Linked DNA regions of Homo sapiens. The protein of the gene in region 1 purifies or fractionates together with the protein of each later gene. This does not show direct contact. Each region holds a gene or a part of one and is shown in the gene's direction. Other genes may lie near its edges.

What was found.
Region 2: the proteins of PSAT1 (region 1) and TUBB6 fractionate together in Homo sapiens (co-fractionation; one large-scale study listed by BioGRID). This does not show direct contact.
Region 3: the proteins of PSAT1 (region 1) and SGPL1 fractionate together in Homo sapiens (co-fractionation; one large-scale study listed by BioGRID). This does not show direct contact.
Region 4: the proteins of PSAT1 (region 1) and HSPG2 fractionate together in Homo sapiens (co-fractionation; one large-scale study listed by BioGRID). This does not show direct contact.
Region 5: the proteins of PSAT1 (region 1) and TTC1 fractionate together in Homo sapiens (co-fractionation; one large-scale study listed by BioGRID). This does not show direct contact.
Region 6: the proteins of PSAT1 (region 1) and SHTN1 fractionate together in Homo sapiens (co-fractionation; one large-scale study listed by BioGRID). This does not show direct contact.
Region 7: the proteins of PSAT1 (region 1) and TALDO1 fractionate together in Homo sapiens (co-fractionation; one large-scale study listed by BioGRID). This does not show direct contact.

Annotation. Positions count from the first base shown.
Region 1 is NC_000009.12:78,310,330-78,314,376, forward strand, and holds part of PSAT1 (phosphoserine aminotransferase), read left to right. Parts: intron 1-4,047. UniProt on the Homo sapiens protein: Involved in L-serine biosynthesis via the phosphorylated pathway, a three-step pathway converting the glycolytic intermediate 3-phospho-D-glycerate into L-serine.
Region 2 is NC_000018.10:12,321,550-12,325,596, forward strand, and holds part of TUBB6 (tubulin beta-6 chain), read left to right. Parts: intron 1-3,259; exon of another isoform or gene 3,260-3,517; coding exon 3,518-4,047. UniProt on the Homo sapiens protein: Tubulin is the major constituent of microtubules, a cylinder consisting of laterally associated linear protofilaments composed of alpha- and beta-tubulin heterodimers.
Region 3 is NC_000010.11:70,871,085-70,875,131, forward strand, and holds part of SGPL1 (sphingosine-1-phosphate lyase 1), read left to right. Parts: coding exon 1-62; intron 63-752; coding exon 753-902; intron 903-2,266; coding exon 2,267-2,505; intron 2,506-4,047. UniProt on the Homo sapiens protein: Cleaves phosphorylated sphingoid bases (PSBs), such as sphingosine-1-phosphate, into fatty aldehydes and phosphoethanolamine. Elevates stress-induced ceramide production and apoptosis.
Region 4 is NC_000001.11:21,822,020-21,826,066, reverse strand, and holds the end of HSPG2 (basement membrane-specific heparan sulfate proteoglycan core protein isoform b precursor), read left to right. Parts: intron 1-841; exon of another isoform or gene 842-1,287; coding exon 1,288-1,363; exon of another isoform or gene 1,364-1,451; coding exon 1,452-1,530; exon of another isoform or gene 1,531-1,690; coding exon 1,691-1,761; exon of another isoform or gene 1,762-1,862; coding exon 1,863-1,946; exon of another isoform or gene 1,947-2,347; coding exon 2,348-2,451; exon of another isoform or gene 2,452-2,578; coding exon 2,579-2,751; 3' UTR 2,752-3,823; downstream 3,824-4,047. Other genes in the region: LDLRAD2 (low-density lipoprotein receptor class A domain-containing protein 2 precursor), read right to left, coding at 3,852-3,865. UniProt on the Homo sapiens protein: Integral component of basement membranes. Component of the glomerular basement membrane (GBM), responsible for the fixed negative electrostatic membrane charge, and which provides a barrier which is both size- and charge-selective.
Region 5 is NC_000005.10:160,011,700-160,015,746, forward strand, and holds part of TTC1 (tetratricopeptide repeat protein 1), read left to right. Parts: intron 1-2,959; exon of another isoform or gene 2,960-4,047.
Region 6 is NC_000010.11:116,939,023-116,943,069, reverse strand, and holds part of SHTN1 (shootin-1), read left to right. Parts: intron 1-2,457; coding exon 2,458-2,604; intron 2,605-4,047. UniProt on the Homo sapiens protein: Involved in the generation of internal asymmetric signals required for neuronal polarization and neurite outgrowth.
Region 7 is NC_000011.10:750,211-754,257, forward strand, and holds part of TALDO1 (transaldolase), read left to right. Parts: intron 1-4,047. UniProt on the Homo sapiens protein: Catalyzes the rate-limiting step of the non-oxidative phase in the pentose phosphate pathway. Catalyzes the reversible conversion of sedheptulose-7-phosphate and D-glyceraldehyde 3-phosphate into erythrose-4-phosphate and beta-D-fructose 6-phosphate.

The DNA of each region.
Region 1 (4,047 bases):
TTCTGCCATTAGTGCTCTCTCTTCACCAGCAAAAGGATGAGTGTGGATTTGCGTGTGTTTGCAGGATTCTGCCTTAGGAGAATAGTTCACTGTTGGAGTCCAGCTCTTCTCTCAACAGGATTTTCTTGTCTTGGTGGAAGTTCTCTTAAAGGAGCGTAGGAAAGAGGGGGCTCAGGCTGGTGCAGTTAGTGGTTCCATCTGGGCCAGGATTTTGTCAGAGCTTCCCCTCCTCCAGGTGCTGCTTAGGGAAAATGTCTTCTACATAATTTACTATGGAAAGGAAAGAATTTTTTTTTTTTTTGACAGAATCTTGCTCTGTTGCCCAGGCTGGAGTGCAGTGGCGTGATCTCAGCTCGCTGCAACCTCCGCCTCCCGGGTTCAAGCAATTCTGTCTCAGCCTCCCGAGTAGCTGGGAGTACAGACGCCTGCCACCATGCCTGGCTACTTTTCGTATTTTTAGTAGAGACGGGGTTCCACCATGTTGGCCAGGCTGCTCTCAAACTCCTGACCTCAGGTGATCCACCTGCCTCGGCCTCCCAGAGTGTTGGGATTACAGGCGTGAGCCACCGCCGGAATTTTTTTCAATGTTAGAATTCTGGTGAAAATTCTGCTGGGTTTCTGCTTGGTCACACGATGCAGAGCAGCAGCTCCTCACATTGTGTCTCCCACTTTCCTCAGGGGAGTGTTCTGGGATGCACTCTCCTGGTCACCTCTAAACCCTACTGTCTTTTACCTTGGTTGAAATGTTTCTAAAATGCATGGTAGGGATGGGAGTGGGGCTGAGTCTTACCTCCCACTCGCCTGTCTTACCTCTGGGGAAGCACCAGTGGTCACTGGCCAACTGGGACACAAGAACTGGGCAGGCTGAGCGGTGAGGGTGCAGCTGGGGACCTCAAGTGCTGGCCTCCGGGGGAAGGGGCCGAGATGTCAGGCTGCACATGGCAGGTAGAGGTACAGGAGGCTGTCCTTACCTGTTTGGAGATGGGGCCAGGGCCTGCCTTGCAGCTAGAGGAGGCTTTCAGAGGAGCCCAAGACCATCACCCATTTCAGAAGTGAGAAGGTGGGAGGGGGCAGGGAAAGAGTGCTGTTCCTGAACTGTCCCACAGCCTGTAGGCCAGCAAGTTGCGATCAGGGTACAGCTTGGGGCAGGGCAGACAGTCACTCTCTGGTACCTTCTTCAAGGGTTACCTTGAAGAGCATTTTTTTAAAAAGGAATGAACACGGCCGGGTGCGGTGGCTCACACCTGTAATCCCAGCACTTTGGGAGGCCGAGGCGAGTGGATCACAAGGTCAGGAAATCGAGACCAGCCAGACCAACATGGTGAAACCCCGTCTCTACTAAAAATACAAGAATTAGCCAGGCATGGTGGCGGGTGCCTGTAGTCCCAGCTACTCAGGAGGCTGAGGCAGGAGAATCCCTTGAACCTGGGAGGCAGAGGTTGCAGTGAGCCGAAATCACGCCAGTGCACTCCAGCCTGGGTGACAGAGTGAGACTGTCTGAAAACAAAAACAAAAACAAAAACAAAAACAAAACAAAAACCATGCAAGGTTAGAAAATCATTGCTCACCCAATGAGAACAAGCTGCAAATGGAGACATCAAGATGTGTGCAAAATCCCCTCCCCAGTCCGTGATGTGAGGCTGATGGGGTACCTGGAGCCCTTCAGAACTTTGTATCACATAGTAGAGTTCTTGAAAAGGCCTCACTTTTGAAAAGACGCCTTTTTTTTTTTTTCCCCACAGAGTCTAATGACCATAGGCCCTGGGAACTTTGATTTAATTGTGCTGGATAAAACTGCCTTCAAATCGTTGCTCCGTAGCCCTGAGTGATGAACTAGAGTGGAATAAAGAACACACTGCTGTTCTCTTTAACCCTTCAGTAGAACACACTAACCCCAATTAGTGCATAGAGAAAAAGATCCCTAAACTTCCCTTCTGACTGCACAAAATATTTTTTACTTACCATGACTAACTGAATACACAAGCATACGTTTGTTTTAGCTGCAGTATGAGGTGAAGTAACTAATAAAAATACAAAACAAATAGACCATTAATCTTAGGCCACCTGTTAAAAGAATGAGAACAGGCCAGGCGCAGTGGCTCATGTCTGTAATCCCAGCACTTTGGGAGGTCGAGGCAGGTGGATCACCTGAGGTCGGGAGTTCGAGACCACCCTGACCAACATGGACAAACCCCGTCTCTACTAAAAATACAAAAATTAGCCAGGCATGGTGGCACATGCCTGTAATCCAAGCTACTCGGGAGGCTGAAGCAGGAGAATCACTTGAATCCAGGGGGCAGAAGTTGCAGTGAGCCAAGATTGTGCCATTGCACTCCAGCCTGGGCAATAAGAGCAAAACTCCATCTCAAAAATAATAATAATAATAAATAAATAAAAGAATGGGAGCATGCAAATTAAGTTTGTGGGCCTGTTTGGAAGGCTTCACTGGTCCCAGACTACCTTCTCCCAGTGGGATGGGGATGCCTGGAATCCTGGAATTCACAGAGGGGTGTGTAGTGGAGCCAGTTTTGGGAGCTTTCCTCTGGGAAAAGTGCTCAACTCAGTGGCTACATTCACCGATTCCTGAGAAAACTGTGCCATAACATCAACTTCAGAACCTCATCTGCAGAGCTGGAGTCTTAGAACAGCCAGGGAGAGTTTTCCAGGGGACTTTCTGGTGTCCTTTTCTAAGCCCTGGTGCACAGGGACTATTTTGTATTGCTTTAAAAAATTTATAACAGTGATATACTCTTAGGCTGGGTGTGGTGGCTCACGCCTGTAATCCCAGCACTTCAGGAGGCCAAGGCGGGCAGATCACCTGAGGTCAGGAGTTCGAGACCAGCCTGGCCAACATGGTGAAACCCTGTCTCTACTAAAAATACAAAAATTACCCGGGCGTAGTGGCGTGCACCTGTAATCCCAGCTACTCTGGAAGCTGAGGCGGGAGATCACTTGAACCTGGGAGGCGGAAGTTGCAGTGAGCTGAGATCGTGCCACTGCACTCCAGCCGGGGTGACAGCAAAACTCTGCCTCAAAAAACAAACAAAGAAACAAAGAAACAAACAGTAACATACTCTTAGCAAAGACTTGCAGGTGGGCAGAGTCACCAGGGTAGCCACTGTTCACTGCTTGCTTTGTATCCTAACAGACTCTTAACTGGGCATATGCAAATATACAGAGTCATATATTTAATCATGCAAATGGAACTTGAACTTTACCATACAAATTGTTCTGTGAATTCTATTTTTCCACTCCACAATATACCATGGGCATTCTGCTATGTCAGCTCAAATGCCTATTTTTATTTTTTACTTTTAAATTTTATTTTTGTTAGAGACAGGGTCTTGCTCTGTTGTGCAGGCTGGAGTGCAGCAGTGTGATGATAGCTCTCAGAAACCGCAAACTCGTAGGCTCAAGTGATCCTCCCACCTCAGCCTCCTAAGTAGCTAGGACTACAGGCAAGTGCCACCATGCCTGGCTACATTAAAAAAAAAATTTATGGCGACAGGGTCTCAATATGTTGTCCAGGCTGGTCTCAAACTCCTGGCCTCAAGCTGTCCTCCCACACTGGCCGTCCAAAGTGTTGGGATTACAGGCATGAGCCACCACACCTGGCCCTTTTTTGTTTTAAAATATATATGGTGTCCTGTAGAATGGACATACCTCGATTTATTTAATCATTTAATAGGCAGAGTTAGGAACCCTATCCTGTGTGTTTGCAGGTGGCATTTTAGAAATGAAGGCATAAGTCTTAAAAATGTCACACTGGTAGTGGGAAGAATTGAGACCACTCTATAAGCTGTGTAAGCGTTTTAGAGCCCTTGTGTTTTCAAGATTTTAGACGGTATGGGAGTTGAAACATGAGTTAATAAAGAACTGGAAGCCACGAGGGTCCTGTGTTAAGTAGAGCCACAGGGGCTAGACATCAGTGCTCTGCAGAGGGCTGGGTGGGAGGGGAGGCAGGACCTCCTATCCTGTGTTAAGTAGAGTCACAGGGGCTAGACATCAGTGCTCTGCAGAGGGCTGGGTGGGAGGGGAGGCAGGACC
Region 2 (4,047 bases), on another chromosome or scaffold:
GCTTCATAGTTCAGTGCCCCCAGGGTGAGTGCAGCATCAGGGATGGACCTGCCCACGTGAAACCAGAGAGGCTGGTCTTTGGCAGTGGCTGTGAATTGTTGCCACCAGCCGTGTGTAGACAAAAGTCAAGTTGGAGTAAGTGGGGAGAGGTCTGTATAATGCAATGCAAGTTTTTATGACTTGAATTAGTTAAATCTGCAGCCCAAAATTTCATGAAAATAAATATTTAAAACATTTTATTAAAAATTAAATTGACAAAGTCATATTAGAAATTAGTATTTCAATTTTCCCAACTCTAAGTATACTGGAATAAATTGCCTTAAAGTGAAAGAGTGAGAGTGTATTTAGTAAGTCTTGGTTAAGCCTTTTTGGTTTACATTCAGAAACAAGAAAAGAATGACTGATGTAAAATGTCATGACCTGCAAGTTAGGTCGTTTCCAATTCTGCTTTCTTCAACATTGAGTTGTTGGCCAGGTGCGGTGGCTCATGCCTGTAATCCCAGCACTTTGGGAGGCCGAGGTGGGCGGATCACTTGAGGTCAGGAGTTCAAGACCAGCCTGGCCAACGTGGTGAAACCCTCTCTCTACTAAAAAATACAAAAATTAGCCGGGTGTGGTGGCAGCACCTGTAATCCCAGCTTCTCGGGGGGCTGAAGCAGAATTGCTTGAACCCAGGAGGTGGAGGTTGCAGTGAGACAATACCGTGCCACTGCACTTTAGCCTGGGCAACAGAGTGAGACTCCATCTCAAAATAAATAAATAAATAAATAAACAAAATTGAGTTAAGTGACAGATGATTGAAAATACTTTTTTTTTTTTTTTTGAGACAGGGTCTTGCTCTGTCACCCAGGCTGGAGTGCTGTAGCACAATCTTGGCTCACTGCAACCTCCATCTTCTACGCTTAAGTGATCCTCCCACCTCAGCCTCCCGAGTAGCTGGGACTACAGGCATGCACTACCAGACCCAGCTAATTTTTGTATTTTTAGTAGAGATGGGGTTTTGCCATGTTGCCCAGGCTTGAAAATACTTTTTGATAATAGCTCACTATTTGATTTTTGGGATGTAACTCTGAAGACAATCAAAGAACTGAATGACATTGTAGAACATAATTCATTCCCATTTACATATATCTGTGGACAAGATTTCTCATATATGTAAAAATTAAGAGGAATAGAATTGATCCCAAGCCTTGGCCCTTTCTGGCAGTATTTAATATTCACCCTTGGATAAATGAATTAATAGGAAAAAAATAGATATAGATAGGTAGATAGATAACATTTAATACTTTGTAATCACAGGAAATTAAAAAGAATCAACTTCAACTGATTGGAATTATTTCTGATTTTTAATATATTCTATCAATACATTTAACAGAAGAAGAGTTTTTTAAAGTGATTATATTGTTTCCAGAAATTAAAATTATATCATATGCAACTATTTGACTTATGAAAAATAATAGATGTTAACTTTAAAATAAATGAGAGGTATCTAGTATCTAGTTTTTTCAAATGTTCATTAGCCAAGTGTAGTGGCATGTGCCTGTAGTCCCTGCTACTCAAGAGGTTGAAGTGGGAGAATCACTTAAGCCCAGGAGTTCAAAGCTGCAGTCAGCTAGGGTGGTGCCAGTGTACGCCACCCTGGGTGACAGAGCGAGACCTTGTCTCTAAATAAATAAATACAGATGTTCACAGCAATGTATGAAAGCCATTGCATTATATGAAACTCGTAGTGCCCAGAAAACCAAAAACAAAAATTAGTTCCTCCCACTCCTACGTGCATCTGTTCATATGGACATACAAACCTGTGTAATTTTTACAGCTGGGAAAAAAATGCTTCTGCTAGTGAAATAATCCATTTTAAAATGAGATAAAATGAAAAATAGGATTTTAAATTTAAGAGCCAATCTTTCAGATTCAATTTTTTTTAGGTAAAGTAAGATATACATAAGCCTGTCTGGCAAAAATGCACCATTATGGGGCTGGCCCGGTGGCTCACACCTGTAATCCCAGCACTTTGGGAGGCCGAAGTGGGTGGATCACGAAGTCAGGAGATTGAGACCATCCTGGCTAACATGGTGAAACCCCATCTCTACTAAAAAATACAAAAAATTAGCCAGGCGTGGTGGTGGGTGCCTGTAGTCACAGCTACTTGGGAGGCTGAGGCAGGAGAATGGTGTGAACCCGGGAGGCGGAGCTTGCAGTGAGCCGAGATCGCACCACTGCACCTCCAGCCTGGGTGGCAGAGCAAGACTCCGTCTCAAAAAAAAAAAGCACCATTATGCAGAAAACAGACTAGGTCTCTTTCTTGTTACTTGAACTCTGCATAAAATACAGAAGTCTTTCAGACATATTAAGCTCCTTTTCTCAACTGGCCTGGAAACAATTTGAGGGCAGGAATTACTTCCTGTGCTTAGTATTTAATTATAGGGGCAGAATAAATAATTGGTTCTGCAAACATTTTGCAACAGTAATTCTGGATGATGAATGAGGGGCTCCATTAACATGAAAAAGTGTCAAGTTTTAAAAATAAAATACTTGGGCCGGGCGCCGTGGCTCACGCCTGTAATCCCAGCACTTTGGGAGGCCGAGGCGGGCGGATCACAAGGTCAGGAGTTCGAGACTATCCTGGCTAACACGGTGAAACCCCGTCTCTACTAAAAATACAAAAATATTAGCCAGGAGTGGTGGCAGGCGCCTGTAGTCCCGGCTACACGGGAGGCTGAGGCAGGAGAATGGCGTGAACCCAGGAGGCGGAGCTTGCAATGAGCCGAGATTGCGCCACTGCACTCCAGCCTGGGCGACAGAGTGAGACTGCGTCTCCAAAAAAAAGAAAGAAAGAAAAGAAAATACTTATACATAGTACAGTATAAGATTCAGAAAGCCCAAAGGAGAGAACTTTTTTTTTTTTTTTGAGCTGTAGTCCCATTCTGACGCCCAAGCTGGAGTGCAGTGGCACCATCTCAGCACACTAGAACCTCCACCTCCCAGGTCCCAGGTTCAAGCAATTCTCCTGCCTCAGCCTCCCAAGTAGCTGGGACTACAGGCTCCCCACCACCACGCCCGGCTGATTTTTGTATTTTCAGTAGAGATGGGGTTTCCTCATGTTGCCCAGGCTGGTCTCTAACTCCTGACTTCAAGTGATCCACCCGCCTCGGCCTCCCAAAGTGCTGGGATTACAGGCATGAGCCACGGCGCCCGGCCAGTAACTTATTTTTTTAATGTATACCTTTTGTTCCCTTTGAATTCTACCATGTGCAAGAATTACCTCTTTAACATGGAACAACCAGGTCAAAATGTATATACATCTTTAAAATTGACCAGTAGCTACTTTGACTTGCCTAAAAACGTACCAGTGCATCTGCTCAGCTGCACCGTTGGTGGGTGCCTGTTTCCCCGGCCCCTCCCTTTGGCTAACAGCACATCATGGAATCACTTCACACCCTCCTTGTCGGTGACCAAGCATGGTGATGGCGCAGCCCTTTCCTGTTTAAACGGCACGGGACTCTCTTTGTTGCAGGCCAGACGGGTGCAGGGAACAACTGGGCGAAAGGGCACTACACGGAGGGCGCGGAGCTGGTGGACGCAGTGCTGGACGTGGTGCGGAAGGAGTGCGAGCACTGCGACTGCCTGCAGGGCTTCCAGCTCACGCACTCGCTGGGCGGCGGCACGGGCTCAGGCATGGGCACGCTGCTCATCAGCAAGATCCGTGAGGAGTTCCCGGACCGCATCATGAACACCTTCAGCGTCATGCCCTCGCCCAAGGTGTCGGACACGGTGGTGGAGCCCTACAATGCCACACTGTCGGTGCACCAGCTGGTGGAGAATACAGACGAGACCTACTGCATCGACAACGAGGCGCTCTATGACATCTGCTTCCGCACTCTGAAGCTGACAACGCCCACCTACGGGGACCTCAACCACCTGGTGTCCGCCACCATGAGTGGGGTCACCACCTCGCTGCGCTTCCCGGGCCAGCTCAATGCTGACCTGCGCAAGCTGGCGGTGAACATGGTGCCCTTCCCGCGCCTGCACTTCTTCATGCCTGGC
Region 3 (4,047 bases), on another chromosome or scaffold:
TCGTCTGTTCTACCCCACAGTTTCCTCATGGTGTAATAGATCCTGTCCCTGAAGTGGCCAAGGTATATGAGAGAAATGGGCTGCTAAGGCAGGCAAATGGATATTTTAAAACAAAGCCTAATGGGGCAGTACTTGGCAAATAGAAGCGATTTTTTTTTTGTTTTTGACCACAGTAGTGATAAGTAGCTCTCATCAGCCCTAGGGGAAGCCCTGCAGCTCAGTTGCAAGCCTTTAAAAGTTGCTAGTCTCTGCTGTGGGGGAAGATAGTACAAGGCTGAGGCCTTTTAAACTGGAAATTCTGAAATAGGATTGCCTTCTAGATTGAGATCTGGAAATAATCTGCATGTAGGAATGTGCCCACCAAAAGGGTGATATTCCACATGCTGCCCCTCAGCGCCTCCCTTTCCCTCACGCCTCATCCTGCAGTGACTGAGGCAGGACCTTTCCCTTGTGCGAGAGGCAGCCTAAATCAGAGCTCTACTCATTTCCTGCTTGATACCGCAGAGCGTTTGAGGTCATGCATATTTAAATATAAAATTGATACCATATTTCAGATGAATTATTTTGAAGGGAAAATACATTTGAAAGATAAATTTTGTTGGGAATGTTAAAAATAGCCATTTTTTAAAAACATGGGAGGCATAATACAAAATAGCCTTGTGTTTATAGCCCATCTTTCCACCCATGTCTTGCAGTTTTTATTATAGGGCTATAAAGGAAATTCTCTTATGTTCTTTGTTTTTTGGAACAAGCTGGCTGTCAAATACAAAATACCCCTTCATGTCGACGCTTGTCTGGGAGGCTTCCTCATCGTCTTTATGGAGAAAGCAGGATACCCACTGGAGCACCCATTTGATTTCCGGGTGAAAGGTGTAACCAGCATTTCAGCTGACACCCATAAGGTGAGCTAAGGAGGAGATCAAGTGTTACCAGTTGATTATTTTGACTATTATTGATAAAATAAATTGGTAGCTTCCCCGCAAAGTATAAAATTAACTATAGAATTCTCATCAGATGCTTGTTTTAAACTCTCTCTTTGCCGTCACCAGATCAGCTGGTTCAGGTGATGGGGTATAGTGGTAGAGGTGACAAGCAGTAGTGAAAATGAACCTGTTACCTTTATCTCAAATTGGCTAAGAGAATTTCTGTATCCACTGACTGTGTGTAACTAGAACATGCTAGTGTAGTGGCCCTTGTTAAAAAAGCTCCCTGAAGCCTTGAGCTGATTTGAGGTGGAGGGTAGAGGAGTGTGAGGGTTGGTAGTGGAGTTCCCATGCTGGTAGATAACATTAGAGCTGCTGTGCAACTGGGCTCCTGAGCGTACATGACGGGAAAATGTTGACGGAAGAGTCCTTTGGAAAATGGGAAGAACCTGTGTGCTCAGGAACATTCAGCATTTGAGATGGCCACGCCTGCCACCCTTGGTGGACTGAGACAAAGTCTAGATCAGTTGATAACGCTATTGAATATACATCCAGATGTGGAAGAAGTATTAGCAGCCTCAGGAATGTGTACCTTGTTTTGATTGCATTTTCAGAGCTTGTTTTAAACTCAAGTATATTAAAGACTTGTTTTTCAAAATCGGTGTGATCTGCAGCCGATTTTCAGTCAGCATCTGTTTTTTCCTTACCATCCAGATAGCTCCTGTGTCCTTTTCCCATAACCATCCATTTCTGGATGGTTCAGGTAATGAAATTAGTTCCACGTTAGTTTTAATAAGAGTTAATTAGGGGGTCAGATGTTCTATAAGGAAACCAGTTACATAGTTAATTTTAAAGCTGGATTAAGTAGCTTTTAGTTTCTGAGCACCATTATGTTCTCATAAGCATAATATTCTTAGTAATACTAAGCAAAAAAAGATGGGAAGGGGGTCAGATGGTGATTTTAACTTGAAGTGACAAATTCCATCCTTTCCTGGCTTCCATTGCAAACTTACCCTTGCTTTCATCCTGACATATGGTCTCCAGAGAAATATTTTAAATAAGGTAAACCACATGCTGGGCAAGAGAGGGAGTAAACCGATTAACTGGGCGCTGTTCTTCCCTGGGTCTCAGATTCCTCATTCCTAACAGAGAGAATTTAAACTCCATCCCTTAAGTTCCTACTATCCTTTAGCATTTTAAGTTTGAATCCTTAATGTGAGTGGGAAACATAACAGAGAAACTGAGAAATAAATAGGATTTCCTTTGCATGATGAGAGTTCTGGGACAAGGTCTGCCAGACAGAACTATACTCTCACTTTTCTTGTCTGCTACTTCTTCCACAGTATGGCTATGCCCCAAAAGGCTCATCATTGGTGTTGTATAGTGACAAGAAGTACAGGAACTATCAGTTCTTCGTCGATACAGATTGGCAGGGTGGCATCTATGCTTCCCCAACCATCGCAGGCTCACGGCCTGGTGGCATTAGCGCAGCCTGTTGGGCTGCCTTGATGCACTTCGGTGAGAACGGCTATGTTGAAGCTACCAAACAGATCATCAAAACTGCTCGCTTCCTCAAGTCAGAGTATGTGTGGAAGACTGGGGTTCTGCCTTGTCTATTGCTTTTTTGTCCTAGTAGGCTCAAGGCACCTGCCTGGCTAAGTATCCATAGCCCTAGCCCACCTGTTGTCTCCTGCGATATAGAGGGCTTAGGGCAGCAGCTTAGGGCTTAGGCCAGACCAGCTGGCCTGGGAGAAGAAGCTCCCTTTCTCTGCCCTGACTTTTGGAGGGTCTTTGAGACGGGGGCCTCATTTGTAGTTTATCTCATCTCTATGGATGTCTTAATAACTGGCAGCTCTTACCCTAAGGCTAATGTACAATTTAATGGTTAGGACAGTGATTCCCAAACTTGAGCATGCATTCTAATCACCTGAAGGACTTGTTAAAACACAGGTAGCTGGGCCCACCCCTAGAGTTTCTGATTCAGTGGAACTGGGATGGGCTCTAAAAATTTCCATTTCTGGAGATACTGATGCTACTGCTCCAGGAATCATACTTGAAGAATCATTGGAATAAGAAAATAATTGGAAATGGGCCAGAAGGAATGAGGAAAGGAGGGCAATGAAATCTTGGGTTAAGCCAAGGCCAGAACAGGCTGCATGCTTTGTCTAATGTATCTGTTAACATCTTATCTGCCCATCTCTCTATGTGTCACTTGGATTGGGGAGGCTCTTTAAGTATATTGAGGGGGAAGGAAAGCTGCCTGCAGGCATTTCTCATTTGAGAAAGATCCTTGGCCAGGCACGGTGGCTCCGGCCTGTAATCCCAGCACTTTGGGAGGCCAAGGCAAAAGGATCGCTTCAGCTCAGGAATTAAAGACCAACCGGAGCAACATAGTGAGACATTATCTCTACAACAAATTTAAAAATTAGCCATGAGGCCGGGCGCGGTGACTCATCCCTGTAATCCCAGCACTTTGGGAGGCTGAGGCGGGTGGATCACCTGAGGTCCAGAGTTCAAGACCAGCCTGACCAACAGGGAGAACCCCGTCTCTACTAAAAATACAAAATTAGCCGGGCGTGGTGGCGCATGCCTGTAATCCCAGCTACTCAGGAGGCTGAGGCAGGAGAATTGCTTGAACCCGGGAGGCAGAGGTTGCGGTGAGTTGAGATGGCACCATTGCACTCAAGCCTGGGCAACAAGAACGAAACTCCATCTCAAAAATAAAAAATAAATAAAAATAAAAATTAGCCACATGTGGTGGTGTGCACCTTTGGTCCCAGCTACACAGGAGGCTTAAGGCAAGAGGACTGCTTGAACAGCCCAGGAATTTGAGGTTACAGTGAGCTATGATCACACCACTGCACTCTAGCCTGGGTGACAGAGCAAGACCCTGTCTCAAATAAATAAGCAAACAAATAAATAAAAATTAGATATATATAAAAGGTCCTCCTATAGCTCTGATAGGGCCATTTATTAAGACCTGCTATACCATTTCTTGCTTTAGGGATTACATATGACTTTTTAGAACTGTGGAGATGGGCAGATTACTTTTCCAGAAATTTTTTTAGTACATCTTTCATGCCTCAGAAGCATCTAGGGGAATATAATTGGGAGTTGGGTAGAC
Region 4 (4,047 bases), on another chromosome or scaffold:
TCACACCTGTCATCCCAGCACTTTGGGAGGACAAGGTGGGTGGATCACCTGAGATCAGTTCGAGACCAGCCTGGCCAACATGGCGAAACCCCATCTCTACTAAAAATACAAAAATTAGCCAGGTGTGGTGGTGCACACCTGTAGTCCCAGCTACTCGGGAGGCCAAGGCAGGAGAATTGCTTGAACCTGGGAGGTGGGGGTTGTAGTGAACCAAGATTGTGCCACTGCACTCCAGCCTGGGCCACGGAGCGAGACTCCATCTCAAAAATAAATAAATAAAATAAAAATTATCTATATATAATATTCATTCATAGGGTTGTTGTAAGGATTGAGTTAAATGCAGTGGTGTCTGTAGCTGGATGGGACGCTCCCCGCACAGCCACATCATAGGTGTTAGGTAAATGTCAGCCGTTCTCCTCATCATTTGGTGGAGGGTAGCAGAGGGTCCCCTACTCTTGTCCCCTGCCAGAGCTACTGTGGCCAGTGCCGGCCTGTGGGATGGGTCATGAGCAGATAGGGCTGGGGGGGTGTGGAGCCACACACAGTATGGACATCCTGGGCCAGTCACTCGCCCAAGCCTGCCTGCTCTTCTGTAAGATGGAGAGAACACCAAGGCTCTGAACCATTTATTGCCACAGTCCAAGGTGACCAACGGTCCCAGTAGCTCCGGACTGAGGGGTTTCTTGGGATGTGGGACTTTCAGGGCTAAAGCCAGACAGAATTTGGCAAGTAGAATGGCGGGTCACCCGACACGGATCCTGTTGACTACACAAAATAAAATAAAATAAAATACATTGATTTAAGGAAAGCAATTATGCTGAAGTAAAGTAATCAAAACATGTTTTAAGTTTCCTGACTTGCTATATATGTGCTTCTTTATTAACACATCAAATAACAAGATCTGGTGATCTCAGTAGCTACCACAATTTCAAAGCAGCAATATGTGTAAATGATATTTTGAAATATTTGCAGCTACTGTCATGTGATAAGCAAATACTAGTAACAAAGTTGCAGGTCCTACCACTGCTACTTTGGTTTCTTGCCTACATCTCATTGAAAGAACTGCTCAATTTCAGTGAGAAGTGAGTGAAATTGAGGTGTAATGCTTTCCCATCCAAGGTCATAGGCTCCCTGAATTCTGTTGGCAGCCCCCGTGGGTCCCCAGGGACTGCAGGCTCGGAGCCCCCTAGTCCTGCATGTTGGCGTGGAGGTGGGGGTCAGGGGAACTGACGGGGGATTTTGATGCCTGATGCAGCAGGTATGGCACCACCCTCCTCTCTCCCACAGATGCCCCTGGGCAGTACGGAGCCTATTTCCACGATGATGGCTTCCTCGCCTTCCCTGGCCATGTCTTCTCCAGGAGGTGAGACTGGCATTGGAAGGGCCCATGGGCCTAATGGGGAGGATGGGAATCTGGGACTTCTGTCCCCTCACCCGCTCTTCCTCCGCAGCCTGCCCGAGGTGCCCGAGACCATCGAGCTGGAGGTTCGGACCAGCACAGCCAGTGGCCTCCTGCTCTGGCAGGGTGTGGTGAGTGTGGGTATCCGGCTGGGCTCTTGGGGCTCCTGGGGCAGGAAGCTGGCTTCCTGGTGGCCGGAGTGGTGGGGGGAGGGGAAAGCAGAGCCCCCTGGCCTCGGCAGCCTCTGCTCTCCAGGCTGGGGACCCCAGAGACCCTGTGCTTCCCTGGCAGGAGGTGGGAGAGGCCGGCCAAGGCAAGGACTTCATCAGCCTCGGGCTTCAAGACGGGCACCTTGTCTTCAGGTAGGTCCTGGCACCTGGCCCTTCCTCTCCCTTCCCTGGTCCCAGCACCCCACCCCCCGGTCCTGCCCCAGCTCATACTTCTTGGGCCTGGATGACTGCAGGTACCAGCTGGGTAGTGGGGAGGCCCGCCTGGTCTCTGAGGACCCCATCAATGACGGCGAGTGGCACCGGGTGACAGCACTGCGGTAAGGGACCCTGCCGGGCACTCGGGATGGGGCCCAGCGTTCTGGAGTGGGGCAGGACGCCCCCTACCATGGGCAGAGAGGCAGGTATTGAGCTCTGTGGAGACAGAACTTGAAGCCAGGGGAGGGGAGAACCCACCAGCCAGGGCTCGGGCTTCCATCTCGGACTGAACTCCGCTGGGGGCAGGCGAGTGCCCCAGGAGTGGGAGGAAACCTGGGTGCAGAAATGAGGAAGCTGTGTTTGTGGGGCCCGATCTCTCGTTCAGCGGGGGAAAGAAAGAGCTTGGGAAACAGGGACAGACTTCTGAGTCTGGAGTCTCGATATCAGAGGGAGGGGACTCTGTCGTGGGGCCGGGGAGGACCAGGAAGTTTGTGGAAAGGGGCCTGACCCAGTTCCACTGCAGGGAGGGCCGCAGAGGTTCCATCCAAGTCGACGGTGAGGAGCTGGTCAGCGGCCGGTCCCCAGGTCCCAACGTGGCAGTCAACGCCAAGGGCAGCGTCTACATCGGTAAGTCTGGGGCTCCTTCTCAGGGCAGGGGCAGGAACGGCACTCCCTTAGGGCTAGAGCTCGCCCAGCCTTCCTCGCCTCCTGGGCTGCTGGAGCCCACAGGCCCTGTCCTCTCACCTCCCGGCAGGCGGAGCCCCTGACGTGGCCACGCTGACCGGGGGCAGATTCTCCTCAGGCATCACAGGCTGTGTCAAGAACCTGGTGCTGCACTCGGCCCGACCCGGCGCCCCGCCCCCACAGCCCCTGGACCTGCAGCACCGCGCCCAGGCCGGGGCCAACACACGCCCCTGCCCCTCGTAGGCACCTGCCTGCCCCACACGGACTCCCGGGCCACGCCCCAGCCCGACAATGTCGAGTATATTATTATTAATATTATTATGAATTTTTGTAAGAAACCGAGGCGATGCCACGCTTTGCTGCTACCGCCCTGGGCTGGACTGGAGGTGGGCATGCCACCCTCACACACACAGCTGGGCAAAGCCACAAGGCTGGCCAGCAAGGCAGGTTGGATGGGAGTGGGCACCTCAGAAAGTCACCAGGACTTGGGGTCAGGAACAGTGGCTGGGTGGGCCCAGAACTGCCCCCACTGTCCCCCTACCCACCGATGGAGCCCCCAGATAGAGCTGGGTGGCCTGTTTCTGCAGCCCTTGGGCAGTTCTCACTCCTAGGAGAGCCAACCTCGGCTTGTGGGCTGGTGCCCCACAGCTACCTGAGACGGGCATCGCAGGAGTCTCTGCCACCCACTCAGGATTGGGAATTGTCTTTAGTGCCGGCTGTGGAGCAAAAGGCAGCTCACCCCTGGGCAGGCGGTCCCCATCCCCACCAGCTCGTTTTTCAGCACCCCCACCCACCTCCACCCAGCCCCTGGCACCTCCTCTGGCAGACTCCCCCTCCTACCACGTCCTCCTGGCCTGCATTCCCACCCCCTCCTGCCAGCACACAGCCTGGGGTCCCTCCCTCAGGGGCTGTAAGGGAAGGCCCACCCCAACTCTTACCAGGAGCTGCTACAGGCAGAGCCCAGCACTGATAGGGCCCCGCCCACCGGGCCCCGCCCACCCCAGGCCACATCCCCACCCATCTGGAAGTGAAGGCCCAGGGACTCCTCCAACAGACAACGGACGGACGGATGCCGCTGGTGCTCAGGAAGAGCTAGTGCCTTAGGTGGGGGAAGGCAGGACTCACGACTGAGAGAGAGAGGAGGGGGATATGACCACCCTGCCCCATCTGCAGGAGCCTGAAGATCCAGCTCAAGTGCCATCCTGCCAGTGGCCCCCAGACTGTGGGGTTGGGACGCCTGGCCTCTGTGTCCTAGAAGGGACCCTCCTGTGGTCTTTGTCTTGATTTTTCTTAATAAACGGTGCTATCCCCGCCAGGGGCCTCCTGAGTCTTTGATGAGGGCTTCACTCAGTGGAGCCTGTGGATGGGGCAGAGCAGGGCAGGTGAGATCTGGGGGTGAAGCAAGCTGGCTTGGGATCAGCGAGGCCCCCAGGCCCCCAACCCTGTGAGGCAGGAATTGTCCTATTTTCTAGAGGGGCAGCTGAGTCTCAGAGGGTTAGGGGGCCTGTCCAACATCAGACAGAGAGCCAGGGGGTTAGA
Region 5 (4,047 bases), on another chromosome or scaffold:
AGACTGAAGTCCTGCTGTCCTACTTCCTTCTGATTGCACAAGCAAGGTAGTCTCTGAAGAGTTACTGTAATGTCTTGAGTTTGTCTACAAAGAACTTGAACTAGATTGTAGTTTATGCCACTAAGGAGCTCACTCACTGAACAGGTTGTGATACATTGGTATTGAGATGAGATAATAAATGTTCAGCCTAAGCCTAACAGTGGGGGTGGGAAGGTAGCCTGGGGTGGGTAGGAGCATCTTCTCTTTCTCTCTCCTTAGACGCTTTTCATTATCAAATCAGTTAGCTTTAATGTGAACGTGTTCGTTTTTGTGCTAGTGTGCACCACCAGAACAGGAGGAAAAAGGGCAAAAGTGAGCCAAGTTCATAAACTACCACAGCAAATACAGCTCAAAAAAATTAACTACTGTTCCATAACATTATAACAGGTTTCAGGCTTTTTAGAAACACTGATTATGCATCTATGTTAAAAAGTTAGTAGTGCTTTTCTGATACCTTAATATATTTTGCCCTGAAATTATATTAATTTTCTAGTGCCCTCTGGATTTGACAGTTGAATGGTTTGGCTCAAGGTGTCACAAAGTCTGATCCCTACCTCTAATTTAGTAAAACTTTTTTTGTGTCTCCTAGGCCAGAAAATCATACTTTAAGTTCTATAAATACTTTTATGATTTTTTTTTTTTTTAAGACAGGATCTCACTGTGTCATCCAGGCTGGAGTGCAGTGATGTGATCACGGCTCACTGCAGTTTCAACCTCCTGGGCTCAAGTGGATCCTCCCACCTCAGCCTCCTGAGCACCTGGGACAACAGGCTTGCACCACCCTGCCTGGCTAATTTTTGTGGGTTTTTTGGTAGAGACAGTGTCTCACCATGTTGCCAAGGCTGGTCTCCAACTCCTGGGCTCAAGCAGTCCTCCCACTTTGGCCTCCCAAAGTGCTGGGATTACAGGCGTGAACCACCACACCCAGTGAGGATAATTATTTTTATTGCCTGTAAGTTTAATATTCTAAGTAGAACAATACTTTTTTTCACTTTTTTCCTCCTTTTAAAAATTGAGATATAATTTAGTGAAACTGTATATCAGTTCTCATGTGTAGAATGCAGTGAGTTTGACAATTGTATACACCTGCATAGTTCACGTTTCTATCAAGATAGAGAACATTTCCATCATGTCAGAAACTCCATTTGTGTGCTTTATCAGTCATTCCTTTCCCAACCCTGCCAGTCTCTGGTTAACCACTCTTCTGATTCCTGTCCCATAGGTGGTTTTTTCCTGTTCCAGACATTCATATAAACATAATCATACAGTAGTATTCATGTTTAAAACATAAATATTTTCTATTCATTTATATATCAGTCTAAGTGTTTTCATAGCTAATTTGAAAATTTGTAAGAATATCTCATAACAGTAACATACTGCAGTGCTAGTCTTATTATTTAGAGAAATGTAAGCCACTGACTCTACTTTAAGGAAACAACCTATAAGAGTGCAGATTGCCTTCAGCTAACTGTGGTACTACTCTTATTAGGTGTTTGTATGCTATTTTGATAAATATCTTTCCAAAATTTTCAAGAAGCCAGCGAAACAGATTGAAGAAATGTCTTCTACATATATGGTTTGGCTTTAATAGCTCATCAGAAACAGGATAGTGTTATATTTGAATCTTTTAAAATAAAGTTCAGATAGTTCAACAATGACTAAAAAAAAAAAATGGCCAAAAAATGTGAAAAGACTCAGCCTCATTAATAATGATGAAAAGTACAGGCTGGGCGTGGTGGCTCATGCCTGTAATCCTAGCACTTTGGGAGGCTGAGGCGGGCGGATCATGAGGTCAGGAATTCGAGACCAGCCTGACCAACATGATGGAACCCCATCTCTACTAAAAATACAAAAATTAACTGGACGTGGTGGTGTGCGCCTGTAATCCCAGCTACTTGGGAGGCTGCGGCAGGAGAATCGCTTGAACCTGGGAGATGGAGGTTATAGTGAGCTGAGATCAGGCCTCTGCACTCCAGCCTGGGTGACAGAGCAAGACTCTGTCTCAAAAAAAAAAAAAAAAATACTAACTAAAACATTATGTCTCATCTATCAGATCAGAATATTGATCTGATGTTGACAAGGAGAGGATGTTGGAACTCATATACTAATATTGAGAATTTAAATTGTTATGTCACTTCATGGGATGCAGATACCAAATTTTTATGTGACCATTTCTTTAGATAGGGCTATCAATAGACTCTTCTACAAGGATAGGAATGTTCTACATCCTGCACCATGCAGTATGGTAGCTGCTGACTACATCAGGCTATTGAGCACTTGAAATGTGGCTATTACGGCTGAGGAACTGAATTTTATTGTAATTAATTTAAATAGTCATACGGGATGGCTCACACCTATAATCCCAGCACTCTGGGAGGCTGAGGCAGGCAGATCACCTAAGGTCAGGAGTTCGACCCGAGACCAGCCTGGCCAACATAGTGAAACCCCATCTCTACCAAAAATTAAAAAATTAGCCAGGCCTGGTGGCGGGCTCCTGTAATCGCAACTACTCAGGAGGATGAGGCAGGAGAATTGCTTGAACCCAGGAGGTCGAGGTTGCAGTGAGCCGAGATTGGGCCATTGCACTCCAGCCTGGGAGACAAGAGCAAAACTCCGTCTCAGAAAATAAATAAATAGTCACATGGGCCAGGCATAGTGGCTCATTCCTATAATCCCAGCACTTGGGAGGCTGAGGCTGGAGGATCACTTGAGCCCAGGAGTTTGAGACCAGCCTGGGCAACATAGTGAGACCCTGTCTTTCCAAAAAAAAAAAAATTTTTTTTTAATTAAAATTTTTTAAAAAGCCTTTAAAAATAAAAATAATCACGTGTGGCACAAGCCTGTAGCCCCACCACTCAGGAGGCTGAGGTGGGAGGATCCCTGGAGCCTGGGAAGTCAAGGCTGCAGTGAGCCATGATCACGCCACTGCACCCCAGCCTGTGCAACAGAGTGAGACCTTGTCTCAAAATGAATAAATAAATAATTTTAAAATCGTCACATGTGGCTAGTAAGTACCATATTGGACATGACAGCATTAACGCTGATTCTCTTGTAGCCATTTATTTCAAGGAAATTATTAGAAATATACACAAATGTATATACATAGATGTGTTGCAGCATCATTCATAATTTTGGAAAGCTAGACAATGTTAAACAGGGTATTTGTAGTATAGTAAATTTATTTGGTCTTTGTCCCTGGTTCCTGTTACAGAGCCACTAGAACCCTTGGAATTTTCTGATAGTGTAGTGTATTTTTTTGTTATTCTTAATGTACCCCTTTTGATAACACCTGAGTTCATCCTAATGAGATAACTTTTAGGATCTGGCCTATCTATAGCCTAAGGAAGGATGGGGCCAGTCACCAAAAAGACTAAGTGATTAGAGTTTTAGAGGGTTGGAACTTTTGGCACCACCTACCAAAATCCAGGAAAGGAGGAGGGCAAGTGCTGGAGATTAAGCTCCATTAAAGCTTTTTTCTTCTTGTGTTTTGAGCCAAGTCTCGCTCTGTTGCCCAGGCTGGAGTGCAGAGGTGCGATCATAGTTCACTGGAGGCTTCAACCTCCTGGGCTCAAGCAATCCTCCTACATCAATGTCCCAAGTGGCTGGGACCACAGGCGCCTTCCACCACACCTTGCTAAATTTTTTTGTGTTTGAAATGAAGTCTTACTATGTTGCCCAGGCTGGTCTCGAACTCCTGGACTCAAGCAATATTCCCATCTCAGCTTCCCACAGTGCTAGGATTACAGGTGTGAGCTGCTGCGCCTGGCCTATAAAAACTCTTGAACTAGAAATCTGATGAGCTTCCAGGTTGATGAGCACATGGAAGTGTTAAGAGGGTAGCACCCAGAGAGGGCGTGGCAGCTCTGCACCCCTTCTCCCTCTACCTTTCCCTGTGTGTCTCTTCACCTGGCTGTTCTATATCATTCATAATGTCCTTTGTAATAAACTACTAAGTGTAAGTAAAGTGTTTCCCAGAGTTCTGTGAGCCATTCTAGCAAATTATTGAAC
Region 6 (4,047 bases), on another chromosome or scaffold:
TACAATATCTAGATTCAATCTACACAATAGTGAGAAGAAAACTTTTTTTTAAAAAATAGCACCACGTTGGAACTAGTATATTTTCCTTTTTACAAAGTTTATGCATTCTCAGGTTTTCAACAGGTAAGTACTGCACAAAGACACATAACTTAGTTTAACAACAGAGTCCCATTCTTTTGCATTTTACTTACCACTTAGGGCATGCAGCAAACATCTTACTGTGCCAGACACTGTGCTGACATTGGGAATCCAGTGGTGAAGAAAGCAAATGTGAGCCCTACCCTCTTGGAGCTTATAGTCTAGAGCCTTAGAAATCAATTTTTAAGGTTAATTTACTTTATATTTTTAATTAAAAAGGAGTATGTGTGCCTTGCACAAAGATACAAATATTTTCTAAATGTATAAAATAAAAATTGAAAGTTACCCCCCATTCTTAACTCCCGCTAGTTCATTTAAAAAACAAAACCAAAAACTTAATCCCCCTCAACAAGAAAACTATCAGTTGTCTTCATAACTATATTAAAATTTTAAATTTCTTCAACATAATTAAATTTTTTGACCAGGCATGGTGGCTCACGTCTGTAATCCAAGCACTTTGGGAGGCCGAGGCGGGGGGATCAATTGAGGCCAGGAGTTCAAGACCAACCTGGCCAACATAGTGAAACCCCATCTCTACTAAAAATACACAGATTAGCCAGGCATGGTGGCAGGCACCTGTAGTCCCAGCTACTTGGGAGGCTGAGGCACGAGAATCACTTGAACCTGAGAGGCAGAGGTTGCAGTGAGCCGAGATTGTGCCACTGCACTCCAGCCTGGGTGCCAGAGCGAGACTCCATCTCAAAAAAAAAAAAAAATTACTGTAATCATAATGGTCACCCAAAACAATTCATTTTAATTAAATCACTGGTCTGAAGTTTAAGATACTGTGATGAAATATTGATTACTCTTTCTTAGAATGCTGAAGCTGCATCTCACCCTTCTCCAGCCAAGTGTACATGCACATACTCTTCCTCACTGCAGTCTCTATACCTCTCACTCTCACACAAATGGAAGAAGAATGTGGGTTTCATGTATATGCAATTGTTTATTTACCTGTTTGACTTTGTAATGTGTTTTAATTCTGCAGAAGAACCCTGTCGTAGTTTTGTAGGCTTTTCATAAATCCCTAGGCAAAGAAGGAAAGCTTCTGACCTTTTTTTCCCTTTCATAGGAAGACATACTGGGAAGAAAATGTTAGTGTTTTAGTATACTGTATTCATGACTTGACTTTGATGTGGAAGTCGATACTGATCAAGAGCTTAAGGATTGTATAAATCATTAAAGCTGTGGTCTTGCCACATGGAGGTTGATGGAAAATATTTTTGTCCTGAGTTTTATTTGCTGACTTTTTCTGTTACATGATGGGTGAAGTTGTTGAACAAACTAATATGAGGGCTTTAGCAAATCATTTTGCAGTTCAGAGCTTTCAGTTAAGTTATAATGTAAATTTTAAAATGCTGTTAAAAATCTGAAAAGGTGAAGCTCTATTATAAAATTGGTAGGCCAGATTTCAGAGTTTACAAAAACATTTCATACTTGGAATCACTCACTGGCCAAATTGGGTAGAGTGTTAAGGAAAAGAAATAACAGGTAAATAGAAATCAATATTATTTTCAATCATGTAAAGTTGTGAGGATTTGATGAATAACATATAAATTGCTTAATACAGTGCTCAATAAAATATACTGTCTCCCTTCTCCCCTTTACCCTTCTACTGTTAACTACTTTTATCACTAGGGAGAAACTAATTAGTTTAAAACAAAACATTAGATCTAGCAAATAGTAGAGGAACTTAGCCAGATGGTTAAGAGCTTGGGCATGTAAATCAGATATGGGTTTAAGTCCTGGTCTTGTCACTTACGTGTGTTCTTGGGAAAGTTGCTTAACTTCTTTGAGCCTCAGTTACCTTATTAGTAAAATTAGATGATAGTAGTGTCTACTTGATAGTGTTGTTTTAAGGATTATATGATATAATGAATGTAAAATGATTCCCACCATATCTATCACATAGTGTTTAGTAAATGTTACCTATTCATAGTAGAAGCACTTTAATAGGATTGATGTAAGGATTAAAATAATCCATATAAAATATTTAGTGGAGTACACAAGGTAAATTCTTGAGAAATATTAGCTACTACTATTAATATTAATGTATCTTAAAGCAATAATAAAATATTAAAAACTGAAGAGTAAGACCAGCTTATTGTATAAATATCTTGTTGGGGCAGGAGTAAAGGTATTAAAGATTATATAAAAGGAATGAAATCATAGCAATCACTACTTCTAAAACTTATAGAAGTCAGAATTTGCCTTTAATGATTTAATAAAAATTCCATGTACTTTTCTTTTGCTGAAGTTACAGTTGAGGAGGTATGTGAGATTGATTGATATATACATTCTTGTAACAAACTTTTGCAGATGTTCATTGAGCAAAACAAGCTAAAGAGACAAAGCCACCTTCTGCTGCAGAGCTCCATCCCTGATCAGCAGCTTTTGAAAGCTTTAGACGAAAATGCAAAACTCACCCAGCAACTTGAAGAAGAGAGAATTCAGCATCAACAAAAGGTAACCCATTTTCTTCTGGAATCTTAGGTACACACACACATACATGCATACACACATATATTTAAGATGAAGGGAGCCAGTGCAGTCAGTCCAGTCATTTACTGTTTCATATTTTGCCTTAGTTACTAAGTGCTTTCAACCACCTTTTAGAAAAAAATAACTAAATGAACTTAATGTTGTGAAACTGAAATTTGTAATACGCTATTATAGACTTTATAATAATCTTTAAACTGTCCAAAGGGTCGGAAGAAGCAAGGGAAAGAGGTATAACTTAAAAACAGCTTGGATAAGGCAAAGTCTGGAAATTCAATTTTTGGAAATGTTATATTTTTTGGAGACTGCACACACTAAGAGGCTGTATTCAACTCAGAGCACTTGTTGGAGGGCATAGGTTTTATTCAAAGAAAATGACAGTCCGTATTAGTAGTAATTGTTTGCTTAGAGAAAATTTTTGATTTTGTAAACTTGCACAAATGTGTATGTTTAAAGACTTCCTAAGTGATTATTTCAATTTGATGAGTGGAGCTATTCCAGCTGACACAGCCTACCTCTGTGTGCCAAGAAGAAAGGATAGTCATTGTGGTAGGTGAGAGGAGAAGCAAAGAAGTGGAACAAAGACTTCCAAATTAAAGAGACCACTTAAGAAAAATTACATCAATGTTTATACTACTTATAATGTACCTCATTTGGGAAGGAAAGGCTGTTAGCTGCTACTTGTTACCACCTGTCAAAGCCTCTGTGGCAACAGTATTGACATTTAATCCTTGGAAGTTCTGAAGTTTTTACAAACTTGGTGGTGAGGTTGAGTTGATTTGTTTTGCCTCAATAAGAAATGTTGATATATGGTGGCTGGTAAGATGGCCGAATACGAACAGCTCCGGTCTGCAGCTCCGAGCGGGATCAACGCAGAAGGCGGGTGATTTCTGCATTGGGTACCCGGCTCATCTCACTGGAACTGGTTGGACAGTGAGTGCAGCCCATGAAGGGTGAGCTGAAGCAAGGTGGGGTGTTGCCTCACCCGGGAAGTGCAGGGGATTGGAGAACTCCCTCTCCTAGCCAAGGGAAGCCACGAGAGACTGTGCTGTGAGGAATGGTGCTCTCCAGCCCAGATACTACGCTTTTCCCACCATCTTTGCAACCCACAGACCAGGAGATTGCCTTGGGTGCCTACACCACCAGGGCCCTGGGATTCAAGCACAAAACTGGGTGGCCATTTGGGCAGACACCAAACTAGCTGCAGGAGTGTTTCTTCATACTCCAGTGGCACCTGGAACTCCAACAACACAGAACCATTCACTCCCCTGGAAAGGGGGCAGAAGCCAGGGAGCCAAGTGGTCTAGCCCAGCAGATCCCACCCCCACGGAGCCCAGCAAGCCAAGATCCACTGGCTTGAAATTGTCGCTGCCAGCACAGCAGTCTGAGGTCAACCTGGGACACTCGAGC
Region 7 (4,047 bases), on another chromosome or scaffold:
CTGTTCCTTGGCAACCTCTAACCTGTTCTCTACCTCTATAGTTTTGTCATTAAAGGACCCTTTGAAAGTACTTATTCCAGCCTGCGCAACATGGTAAAACCCCATCTCTACAAAAAGGAAGAAAAAAAAATAGCCAGGCGTATTGGTGCACACCGTAGTCCTAGCTACTCAGGAGGCTGAGTTGGGAGGATCACTTAAGCCCAGGAGGTTGAGGCAGCAGTGAGCTGTGACTGCGCCACTGCACTCCAGCTTAGGAGACAAAGTGAGACCCTGTCTCAAAAAAAAAAAAAGATATTTATTTGCCAAATAAAGTTACTGAACTTGTGAACTTCGGCCGGGTGTGGTGGCTCAAGCCTGTAATCCGAGCACTTTGGGAGGCCGAGGCAGGCCGATCATGAGGTCAGGAGATCCAGACCATCCTGGCTAACACGGTGAAACCCCATCTCTACTAAAAATACAAAAAAATTATCTGGGCGTGGTGGCGGGCGCCTGTAGTCCCAGCTACTCGGGAGGCTGAGGCAGGAGAATGGTGCGAACCTGGGAGGCGGAGCTTGCAATGAGCCGAGATCGCGCCACTGCACTCCAGCCTGGGCGACAGAGCGAGACTCTGTCTCAAAAGAAAAAAAAAAAAGTTACTGAACTGGCTAATCTGGAGCAATGGGCCATTCTATGGGTGTCAATGGCCATAACTCTTCACCTCCACTTTCCATTTGGACAGCCAGATGAACAAGACCCCAGGTTAAGCCTCGTTGGCTTCTTTGAATTCCTAGCTTGGTTATGTGAGAAATAACTAATGTGTTAAAAGAAACAATAGTTTTAAGAATAAAGAATCCTTGGGTTTTTGTTTTTGGGGTTTTTTTTGAGACAGGGTCTTGCTCTGTCACCCAGGCTGTATAGTGGTGCAATCACGTGGTGCAACACGGCTAACTGCAGCCTTGACCTCCTGGGCTGAGGTGATCCCCCCACCTCAGCCTCCCAAGTAGCTGGGACTACAGATGTGCGCCACCACTCCCAGCTAACAATCCTTGCTGAAGATAACCATGTGGTATCTGTGTTGAAGTCAAAATAAAATGTAGAGACGAATCTCTAAATTCAACGTTTTATTTGGGAAGAAAAAATTGCAGTTCAAGCAGACTGGGTGGTCTTCGATCTGTCCAAAGAACAAGAGAAAGTTGGGGCCAGCCTCGGTGGCTCATGCGTATAATCCCCAGCACTTTGGGAGGCTGAGGCAGAAGGATTGTTTGGGCCTAGCAGTTCGGGACCAGCCTGGGCAACACAGTGAGACCACATCTCTACAAAAAATTTTTGGCTGGTGGCTTACGCCTGTAATCACAGCACTTTGGGAGGCCGAGGAGGGTGGATCACCTGAGGTCAAGAGATCGAGACCAGCCTGGCCAACATGGTGAAACCCCATCTCTACTAAAAATACAAAAAATTAGCCGGGTATGGTGGCAGGTGCCTGTAATCCCAGCTACTCGAGAGGCTGAGGCGAGATAATTGCTTGAACCTGGAAGACGGAGGTTGCAGTGAGCCGGGATCACGCCACTGCACTCTAGCCTGGGCGACAGAGCGAGACTCCATCTCAAAATAACAATAATAATAATAATAAACCATCAACCTCATTTTGATGGTAATTGATGTGTGTGCATGCATGCATGTGTGTGTACACAGTTCCTGTCTCATAACTCCCACAGCCCTGTTATAATGTTGGGGCACTCTAGGCCTCAGGAGCAGGCCTTGGAAAACAGAATTTCCATCACTGACCTTCTCCTCTCCTTTCACCTGTTCCTTTCTCTCTTCAAGGGAGGAATCTTTCCTGCCTGTTTTGGAGCTGTCCATAAATAAATTATCTACTTGCTTTTCTTTTCTTTTTTTTTGGAGGCGGAGTCTCGCTCTGTCGCCCAGGCTGGAGTCAGTGGCGTGATCTCAGCTCACTGCAAGCTCCACCTTCCGGGTTCACGCCATTCTTCTGCCTCAGCCTCCAGAGTAGCTGGGACTACAGGCGCCCGCCACCACGCCCACCTAATTTTTTGTATTTTTTTTTTTTTTTTAGTAGAGATGGGGTTTCACCGTGTTAGCCAGGATGGTCTGGATCTCCTGACCTCGTGATCTGCCCGCCTCGGCCTCCTAAAGTGCTGGGATTACAGGCACCAGCCACCGCGCCCGGCCGTCTACTTGCTTTTCTAATTGTGGGTCCTAAGACCCTCATTTCAAAAGGGGTCCCATCACATACCCTGGAGGAAGGAATGTTGCACGGAGGACGGTAAGAAGGTGAACACAGAGGCGTTGCTGGGTTTCCTCACTCATTAGATGATAATATTTCAACAGGGCTGTCCATACTTCAGTCATGTCTCTCCAGTAGAGTCTCCATAAAAGGCCCAAGAGGACAGGGTTCAGGGAGCTTCCAAATACCTGAACACATGGAGCCTCCTGAAGGGTGGTGCACCCAGGGTGGGCATGGAGGCACCGTGCCCCTTCTCACATGCCTTGCCCTATGCATCTCTTCCTCTGTGTCCTTTGTATAATAAGCCAGTACATGTAAGTGAGTGTTTCCCTTACTTCTGTGATCTGCTCCAGCAAATTAATGGAACACAAAGGTTAATTCAAGTTGACAACCCCAAGTTGAAGCCAGTGGATCAGAAGTTCTGGAGCCCAGACTTGTGACGGGTGGGAATGGAGAATGGTTGGTTGGGACTAAGCCTTCAACCTGTGGGATCTGAGGCTGTCTCCAGGTAGACAGGGTTGGAATTGAATTGGAGGATGCCCAGCTGGTATCCACTGAAGAATTAATTGCTTGTTTGGTGCGTGGGGAGAAACCCCCACACATCGGTCACAGAAGTCCTCTCTGTTGATTATTCTGGTATGAGAGCAGAGGAATGCAGTTCAGGTTGTTTCTTCAGAGGCCGGGCGCAGTGGCTCACGTCTGTAATCCCAGCAATTTGGGAGGCCAAGGTGGGTGGATCACCTGAGGTCAGGAGTTCGAGACCAGCCCGGCCAACATGGCAAAACCCCGTCTCTACTAAAAATACAAAAAAAAAAGGCCGGGTGTGGTGGCTCACACCTGTAACCCCAGCACTTTGGGAGGCTGAGGCGGGCGGATCATGAGGTCAGGAGATCGAGACCATCCTGGCTAACACGGTGAAACCCCATCTCTACTAAAAATACAAAAAACTAGCCGGCCGCAGTGGCGGGCGCCTGTAGTCCCAGCTACTCGGGAGGCTGAGGCAGGAGAATGGCGTGAACCCGGGAGGCAGAGCTTGCAGTGAGCCGAGATGGCGCCACTGCAGTCCGGCGTGGGTGAAAGAGCGAGACTCCGTCTCAAAAAAATAAAAATACAAATACAAAAAAAAAAACACAAAAAACCATAGCCTGGCGTGGTGGCTCGTGCCTGTAATCCCAGCTACTCATGGGGCTGAGGCAGGAGAATTACTTGAACCTGGGAGTTGGAGGTTGCAGTGAGCTGAGCTTGCGCCACTGCACTCCAGCCTGGGCAACAGTGCAAGACTCCGTCTCGGAAAAAAATAAAAAATAAATACAAGTACAAAAATTAGCCAGGCATCATGGTGTGAGCCTGTAGTCCCAGCTACTGAGGACGCTGAGGTAGGAGAATCACTTGAACCCTGGAGGAGGAGGTTGCAGTGAGGCGAGATCATTTTACTGCACTCCAGCCTGGATGACAGAGTGAGACTCTGTGTCAGAAAAAAAAAAAAAGCTACTCAGTGGCTACAAGTTTGGACGTTTTGAACTGTTTAGTTGGTTACTCTGAAGAAAAAAACTTTTTTATTTTTTTTTGCAACAGAGTCTTGCTCCATTGCCCAGGCTGTAGTGCAGTGGCACAATCTCGGCTCACTGCAACCTCCACCTCCCGGGTCCAAGTGATTTTCCTGCCACAGCCTCCCGAGTAGCTGGGATTATAGGCATGCACCACCACGCCTGGCTAATTTTTATATTTTTAGTAGGGACAGGGTTTCGCCGTGTTAGCCAGGCTGGTCTCGAACTCCTGACCTCAAGTGATCCACCCCCGTTGGCCTCCCAAAGTGCTGGGAT